Regions from separate parts of the Homo sapiens genome. Here region 2 is linked to region 1. Evidence: fine-mapped expression QTL. Tissue or cell type: whole blood. Region 1 holds a variant in brackets; the other region holds the start of a gene. Each region is shown on its reference strand, or each on the opposite one. Region 1 overlaps RREB1 (ras responsive element binding protein 1). Region 2 holds the start of AGAP2 (ArfGAP with GTPase domain, ankyrin repeat and PH domain 2).

Region 1 (4,374 bases):
AGCAGACCCATGTGGCGGCAGACCAGGGTCAAGAAAAGCCGCAGGCCACGCCCCTGCCTGGTGACGCCCTGGACCAGAAGGGCTTCCTGGCCTTGCTTGGCCTGCAGCACACCAAAGACGTCAGGCCTGCCCCCGCCGAGGAGCCCCTGCCGGATGACAACCAGGCAATTCAGCTCCAGACACTCAAGTGTCAGCTACCTCAGGACCCCGGCTGCACCAACCTGCTGAGCCTGTCACCTTTCGAAGCTGCTTCCCTAGGCGGTTCTCTCACAGTTCTCCCCGCGACCAAGGACAGCATAAAGCACCTGTCCCTGCAGCCCTTCCAGAAGGGCTTCATCATCCAGCCTGACAGCAGCATTGTGGTCAAGCCCATCTCTGGCGAGTCGGCCATCGAGCTGGCAGACATCCAGCAAATTCTGAAGATGGCAGCCTCGGCTCCCCCTCAGATCAGTCTTCCGCCCTTCTCCAAGGCCCCTGCCGCCCCACTGCAGGCGATCTTCAAGCACATGCCCCCTCTGAAGCCAAAGCCCCTGGTCACACCACGGACGGTGGTGGCCACCTCCACGCCCCCGCCTCTCATCAACGCCCAGCAGGCTTCCCCGGGCTGTATCAGCCCCAGCCTGCCGCCACCGCCCCTGAAGCTCCTCAAAGGCTCAGTGGAGGCGGCCTCCAACGCCCACCTGCTGCAGTCCAAGTCCGGGACCCAGCCCCACGCGGCCACGCGGCTCTCCCTGCAGCAGCCGCGGGCGGAGCTGCCGGGCCAGCCTGAGATGAAGACGCAGCTGGAGCAGGACAGCATCATCGAGGCCCTGCTGCCGCTGAGCATGGAGGCCAAGATCAAGCAGGAGATCACAGAGGGGGAACTCAAGGCCTTCATGACAGCGCCCGGCGGCAAGAAGACGCCCGCCATGCGCAAGGTGCTCTACCCCTGCCGCTTCTGCAACCAGGTGTTTGCCTTCTCGGGGGTCTTGCGTGCCCACGTGCGCTCCCACCTGGGCATCTCGCCATACCAGTGCAACATCTGCGACTACATCGCCGCCGACAAGGCCGCGCTCATCCGCCACCTGCGCACGCACAGTGGGGAGCGGCCCTACATTTGCAAGATCTGCCACTACCCCTTCACTGTCAAAGCCAACTGCGAGCGGCACCTGCGCAAGAAGCACCTCAAGGCCACCCGCAAGGATATCGAGAAGAACATCGAGTATGTGAGTAGCAGCGCGGCCGAGCTGGTGGACGCCTTCTGCGCCCCGGACACCGTGTGCCGGCTGTGCGGCGAGGACCTCAAGCACTATCGTGCCCTGCGCATCCACATGCGCACGCACTGCGGCCGCGGCCTGGGCGGGGGCCACAAGGGCCGCAAGCCCTTCGAGTGCAAGGAGTGCAGCGCCGCGTTCGCGGCCAAGCGCAACTGCATCCACCACATCCTCAAGCAGCACCTGCACGTGCCCGAGCAGGACATCGAGAGCTACGTGCTGGCCGCCGACGGCCTGGGCCCCGCAGAGGCGCCGGCCGCTGAGGCGTCGGGGCGCGGGGAGGACAGTGGCTGCGCTGCCCTTGGTGACTGCAAGCCCCTCACTGCCTTCCTGGAACCCCAGAACGGCTTTCTTCACAGGGGCCCCACCCAGCCTCCACCTCCCCATGTCTCGATCAAGTTGGAGCCCGCCAGTAGCTTTGCGGTGGACTTCAATGAGCCCCTGGACTTCTCGCAGAAGGGCCTGGCCCTGGTCCAAGTGAAGCAGGAAAACATCTCCTTTCTGAGCCCTTCTTCCCTGGTCCCCTATGACTGCTCCATGGAGCCCATCGACCTGTCCATCCCCAAGAACTTCAGGAAAGGGGACAAGGATTTGGCCACTCCCAGCGAAGCCAAGAAGCCTGAGGAGGAGGCGGGGAGCAGCGAGCAGCCCTCTCCCTGCCCAGCACCCGGCCCTTCTCTTCCTGTAACTTTGGGGCCCAGCGGAATCCTGGAAAGCCCCATGGCCCCTGCTCCGGCGGCCACCCCGGAACCCCCAGCACAGCCCCTGCAGGGCCCTGTTCAGCTGGCGGTCCCAATCTACTCCTCAGCCCTGGTCAGCAGCCCTCCACTCGTGGGCAGCTCAGCCCTCCTGAGTGGCACAGCCTTGCTGCGTCCACTGCGGCCCAAGCCCCCGCTGCTTTTGCCAAAGCCCCCCGTGACAGAAGAGCTGCCCCCGCTGGCCTCCATTGCCCAGATCATCTCATCTGTATCCTCGGCCCCCACCCTGCTGAAAACCAAGGTGGCGGACCCAGGGCCCGCAAGCACTGGCAGTAACACCACGGCTTCAGACAGCTTAGGAGGTTCTGTCCCCAAAGCCGCCACCACCGCCACCCCCGCTGCCACCACCAGCCCAAAAGAGTCTAGTGAGCCTCCCGCTCCAGCCAGCAGCCCAGAGGCTGCCTCTCCCACCGAGCAGGGCCCAGCGGGCACGTCGAAGAAGAGGGGCCGGAAAAGGGGGATGAGGAGCCGACCCCGCGCCAACAGCGGCGGGGTG[G/A]ACCTGGACTCCAGCGGGGAGTTTGCCAGCATCGAGAAGATGCTGGCCACCACAGACACCAACAAGTTCAGTCCGTTTCTGCAGACAGCGGAGGACAACACTCAGGATGAGGTGGCCGGAGCCCCTGCCGACCACCATGGGCCCAGTGATGAAGAGCAGGGCAGTCCCCCAGAAGACAAGCTGCTGAGGGCCAAGCGGAACTCGTACACCAACTGCCTGCAGAAGATCACCTGTCCCCACTGTCCCCGGGTTTTCCCTTGGGCCAGCTCCCTACAGAGGCACATGCTCACACACACTGGTAAGAGGGCCACCGGGCTCCCAGGCAGTGAGTCCTACTTCCTGGTAGGGGGAGCCACGAGTGGGGGTCAAAAGCGAGACCCATCTCCCACAGTTCCAGTTATTCCTAGCTTGGCTTCTTCCCCGGTCTCCGAAGCCCCGAGCTTGTCTGGTGGTGCTGTATTTCCTATGTGCTCTCAGTACCCACATGGCCTTTGTGCAGGGGCCGAGCCCTCCAAGGGCAGCATTCTACTAAGTGTTCATCCGGGGCGTTTTGAGGTGAAAGTGGTCACAGGCCCTCAGATCACTCATGGCGTCGCCTCATCCCTTCCGGAGGTGGTAGCCAGATTATCTGCTGGGTTAAACAGGGAGGCGGCTCCACAGACGTGAGACTTTGTATTAAGGTATTGGGGCATAATGAGCTCGGTGCTTTGACATTCCATTCCAGTGTCCTCAATGCAGCTTTTTAAATTTTGACAATTTTGTGAAGTTTTTTTGGATGCCATGTCTTCTTAAAGAGAAATATGACAAATTGTGAGGTTGGCTGTTTTCTTTCAGTTCACTAAGGCAGTCACATCTTCCCCTGTTGATTGTGAAAATCAGCAATGAGTGGTGGTAGAATGTTTTAAAATTTCTGTTTATACTACAATTGTAAGCCTTTCTGAGAAACTTCTCTCAGAAGGGCCTGGCGCTGGTCCAGGTGAAGCAGGAAAACAACTCCTTCCTGAGCCCTTCTTCCTTAGCCCCCTACGACTGCTCCATGGAGCCCATCAACCTGTCCATCCCCAAGAACTCACACCCAAGTGTGAAAAAATTCTAAGTAACAAACTTAAATTGTCAAAGTGATACCCCAAAAGTATCTTCCTTTTTTCTTTTTCTTTTTTTTTTTTTTTTTTAAATAAAAGAGTCTCACTATATTGCTCTCAAACTTCTGGGCTCAAGCAGTTTTCTTGCCTCTTCCTCCCAAAGTGCTGGGATCACAGGCATGAGCCCCCACACCTGGCCCCAAAAGTATTTTTCTTTTTTTGAGACGGAGTCTCGCTCTGTTACCCAGGCTGGAGTGGAGTAGTATGATCTCAGCTCACTGCAACCTCTGCCTCCCTGGTTCAAGCAATTCTCCCTGCCTCAGCCTCCCAAGTAGCTGAGATTACAGGCATGCGCCACCATGCCCAGCTAATTTTTGTATTTTTAGTAGAGATGGGGTTTCACCATGTTGGCCAGACTGGTCTCAAACTCCTGACCTCAGGTGATCTGCCCACCTTGGCCTCTCAAAGTGCTGGGATTACAGGCGTGAGTCACTGCACCTGGCCTGCCCAAAAATATTTTTCAAATGTTAGTTTCTAGAAGCTGATTTTTAAAGAGAAGTTTAGGATAGGAATATACTTTAAATAATTTTGTTATCAGGTGCTTCTAGTATATAAATGGCCATACAACTCTCATCTGAATTATAATTTTCTAAATTTTCTCAGTGAACAGTCTCAGTATTCAGTGATTTGTGTTATTGAACTAAGCGCAAATTAGTGAGATCCTATCTTTTTGGAGTTTACAACCAAAATATTAATAAATAGATAGGGCCTAAAACCAAATGGTA
Region 2 (4,374 bases), not on the chromosome of region 1:
TTCTTTGCCCCAATCCTTGACAGAGGGGTGAGCTTGGTTCATCCGCCCACCCCAGAGAAAAGCTTCCCTAGTTTCCTGGACCTCGCTCCTCCACCCCAAGCTGAGCATTCCAGGTACCCTTCCCTCCCTGTTCTCAAGCCCTGACTCAACTCACTAGGGGAAGCGCGGAGCTCGGCGCCCAGCAGCTCCCTGGACCCGCTGCCAGAAGACAGGCTGGGGGGTCCGGGAAGGGGCCCGGAGCCAGGAGGCCCTCCTGTGCTCTTGGTGAAGATGCCGCTGATAAACTTGAGCATCTTGCGGTCACGAGTGGATGCTCGGCCCCCCTCCCGGCCCCGTTTCAGCCCCGGAGCTGGAGGCTCCAGAGTGATTGGAGGTGCAGGCCCGGGGGGCTGCGCGGAAGCAGCGGTGACAGCAGTGGCTGGACTCGGAGTTGGTGGGAGGGTTAGCGGAGGAGGAGAGCCGGCAGGCGGTCCCGGATGCAAGTCACTGTTGTCCAAGGTCTTACTCTTGCCTTTCCGAGGGGACAACTTCCCTCGGGCTCCAGCCCCAGCCCCGACCCCACCAGAGGTCGAAGCTGTAGAGCCCCCTCCCCCGGCGGCGGCGGCGGTGGCGGCGGCAGAGACCGAAGCTCCAGTCCCGGCGCTGCTCTTTGACCCCTTGACCCTGGGCTTGCCCTCGCTTTCGGGCCATGACAGGCGGCTACCCGCGCCCTTGCCCCCGCCGGCTTTGGCTCCACTCGTGGTCACGGTCTTGCAAGGCTTGGGAGCCGGCGGAGGAGGCGCCACCTTGAGCCTCCGGCTGCCGGTGCCAGGGTGCGGAGAGGATGAGCCAGGGATGCCGCCGCCCGCCCGGCCTTCGGGCTCCGGGCCGCCCCAGCTCGGGCTGCTGAGCAGGGGGCGCCGGGAGGAGGTGGGGGCGCCCCCAGGCTTGGGGTCGGGGCTCAGTCCCCCGGAGAGCGGGGGTCCCGGAGGGACGGCCCAGAGGGAGAGGCGGCGGCCGGGAGCGGGGGAGACTGGGCGGGCCGGACTGGCCGGAGCCGGGGACAGGGCTGGGGGCTCCGCGCCCCCGGTGCCCGCGCTGCTCGTGCTGATCCACAGCGCATCCTGCCGGTGGAAGAGACGTTCGTGCCGCTTCTTGCCCGGCTCCTCCGCGCCTCGGGGGCTGCCAGGATCCCCAGTCTCGGAGCCTCTGGCACCGGCGGCGCCGGCCGCGGCCGCAGACGGAGAAGGCGGCGGCGGAGGCACCGACTCGAGCTTAACCAGGGTCAGCGAGATGAGGTAGGTCGTTGTCCGGCGCTGAAGCGCGCCCGCGCCCCGGCTCATGGGGCCCGGAGACCCCCGAGCTGGGGAGGGGAGGGGACTCCCCCGGACTGCCTCAGGGGGGCCCGGCCATGGGGCCGCCCTGCTCGCTGCCCCCAGCCCCCGGACCCCGCTGAGCCCCCGGCCCGGCTCCGCTGTCGCCGCCGCCTCCGCCGCCTCCGCTTGCGCCCCCCTCCCATCACATGGGGCGCCCCCTCCCCATGCTCCCCGCCCTGCGCCCCCACCCTCTTGGAGCCCCGGGACCTTGGTGCTGCTCCAGGGAGGCGCGCCGGACCGTCCACCCCGGCCTGGGTGGGGGCGCTGAGATGGGTGGGGGAGGGCGGGGAGGACAGTAGTGGGGGCAAATGGGGGAGAGAGAGGAAAAGGGAGCAGAAAAGGGGACCGGAGGCTAGGGGAAACGAACCTGTGCGGGGGAGGCAGGGGCGGGGAATTGGGACTCAAGGGACAGGGGCCGCGGATGCGGTCGGAAAGAGGGTCTAGAGGAGGGTGGGAAGCTAGTGGGGCTGGCCGTGCGGGGGATTCGCAGGGGCGCGGGGAGGATGCTGGGGATGGAGATACAGGAGGCGGCGGGGGAGGAAAGAGGGAACGGGAGGTGGGTGGGAACCCACGGGTCTGGGGTCTGGGAGGGGAGGGGCGTGAGATCCGGGCGAAGAGTCCGGGGGCCTCGCCTGGGCTCGGCTTGGTCCGGATGCGCGCTGTGTCCGGGCGCTCCCCTCACATTGAGGAGGAGGCGGCCCCCAGGCCCCCCCACCCTATCTCCCCCCCACCTTTTCTCCACCAGCACCGATGTCTGCGAGGGCGGTGCAAAATCCAGGGCTGGATTTCTCTCCCAAATCCTGGGCTGGATTTCCTGGGACTTGGACTCACCTCCTCCAACAACCTAGCCCCCTCCTCTCGCGCACCAAGGTTAGGAAGCGCGATTGTGAGGTATGGCATTTAGGGATAAGGGTGAAAATCGATCTATTGGGTGGACAGGGGCCGCGGTAAACAGAGCAAACCCAGGGTCACTGCCAATTCTGGGGAAGATGAAGTGGGAAAGTGGGGGCCCTGAAATCCCTTCCCCCAGGATCTCTTGTCTCCCCCAGGTACCTGGACGGTTCCCGTTCTCATGACCCAGCTCCCTTTCCCACTCACACCACCACATTTAATACTTTGACGGGGCCAAGACTTGAGCTCGACTGTCCCAAAGTGAACTTGGAAAATGTTCCCCAGGGATGGGGACAAACATGGAACTTAGCAGGGTAGGAGAGAAGGGAGAGATCTGAGTGCTGGAGGAGCCCAGGCCACAGGGTAAGTCAAAGGCTCCAGCTCTAGGAGGAGGGAGAAGGATGTGTCTTAGACTGATACCCCCCCATGCCAAAATGCATCCAGTCTCCATAGCAACCGTAGCTCCAAGAGTGCCTCAGAAACAGCGGGCAGAAGCAGAGAGGAATCCGTGTGTATGGTGGGTAGGGGACCAACCGCGGGATGCTGAATTAGTGGAGGCACTGCCCTGACACCTGGCTACCCACAGGTGGAGGATTTCACTCCCCAAGTATAAGGACCCTTCAGTTGAGGCAGTGAGAGCCGGCCTCTTCAGGGTTCCCTTTCAGTCTCCTGAGGTTTGCTGAGTGGGATTCTTTCAGAAGATTAAAGAGGAGGCAGGCAGAGTGAATGGAAACCGTCTGCTCCGTGTCCCCCACCCCTCTAGGGGTCTTGGAGTTCAAGGCTCTCTATCCTCCAGCCAGGTGAGAATCCTGAAGTGGTTAGGCCAAAGTGGAAAAGAGGTTGAGACCCCTTGGGGGTGGGGTAAGATGGGCGAAGGAAGGTCTCTCTGCAGCCTTGGAGACCCCTTCCCGGGACTTGGGGAGTCACAGCAGTCCCCTGATTTGGCGTCCCACCCTCCTGACGCAGCTGAGACTATAATAAGTGCTGCCGTGGGCGGCTCTTGGAGGCAGGAGCCCGCAGCGTGCTTGGCCTGGTGGGGGGCTGAGGGTGGGGGGGCTGAGCCAGGATGCCAGGAGCCCTTTGTTCTCCCAGAGGCCTGTATCCAATCCCTCCAATGTTCTGTCCTGGGGCTCAGCAGTTTCTCCCTCCCTCCCTACAGAACCAAGATGACACCATCCCCAGGACAGGAGACCCTTCAGTAGTGTTTTTTGATGGAGAGGGTGAAGGAGAATTGTTGGCTCTGGCTTAAACTTCCCTCCTTTGATGGCCTCGGTTTTCCTTTATGTTCAATGGGAACAGAATACTAATTCTTAGAGAAGGAGTAAAACAAATCACTTATGAGGAGTGAAGCCTTCTCAGGGATTTCCACCTCCACCCCTCCTCACCCTCCTCCCTCTCCAGAGCTAAGCACAGCTTTTCTGCCTGGCCTAAACCGCTCTTCTCCTTTATTATTATTATCATTATTATTTTTGAGAGGGGTGGGGCTTAGAGTTTCTCCCTAGGAGGCCCCATGGCCCACTCCCCCTTGGTCTGCCTTTCCAAACACTAAGGCTGTCAGGGGAAGCTTCAGGTGTAGTTCCTGGCAAAGGGTATGGGACAGGAGGTGAGAGGGGCACTAGCCTCCGAAGAACAATGGGAAGGGGATCATCAGACTGTCCCACTAGGCATCCAAAGCAAGCTGTTCCTTCCCCAAGTTATACTCTGGTGTACTAGCAGAGAGGTCTGGCAGGAGGTGTCCTTGAGGGAAAGAATGATCTCTTGACAACCACCCAGGTAGGCAGGTAACAATGGAGAAGACTGAAATGGCTGGAAGAGATCAGGATATGATGGAAGAAGTGTTTCCACCAGACACCTTTCATGAGCAAAGAAGGCTGCTTTTGTTAGCTCTTTGCTGCATCAGAGGTGAATGGAATGACAGCGAGCTGGAACAACCTCCAGTTCCACCAGTTCCTCAGTGGTAGGGCCTTGTGGATGGAGAGAAGCTGTTCCTGCCAGGGCTCCACCACAGGACTGAAGCCTGGGGTGGGCAGGAGGATGTGGCGGATGGTGTTGCCATGGCAGCATTTCCTCCCTGTGTTGTCATCACTTGCTCTAATGGCACTAAGGAGGTAGAGCGGAAGGTGTGTGG

What was found.
Region 2: AGAP2 starts here. The variant in region 1 is fine-mapped to the expression of AGAP2 in whole blood (TOPMed, PIP above 0.99).

What each region holds. Positions count from the first base shown.
Region 1 is chr6:7,229,103-7,233,476 of GRCh38, forward strand. It overlaps RREB1 (ras responsive element binding protein 1), which reads left to right. Exons shown (of 13, transcript NM_001003699.4): 10 at 1-2,805. Among named protein-coding and RNA genes, the nearest start is that of SSR1, 82 kb to the right of the region's middle. The variant G/A (reference allele first, on the strand shown) is at 2,508.
Region 2 is chr12:57,736,925-57,741,298 of GRCh38, forward strand. AGAP2 (ArfGAP with GTPase domain, ankyrin repeat and PH domain 2) reads right to left here and starts at 1,818. Exons shown (of 19, transcript NM_001122772.3): 1 at 155-1,818. The coding sequence starts at 1,322. RefSeq lists a silencer at 971-1,190 and an enhancer at 4,364-4,374.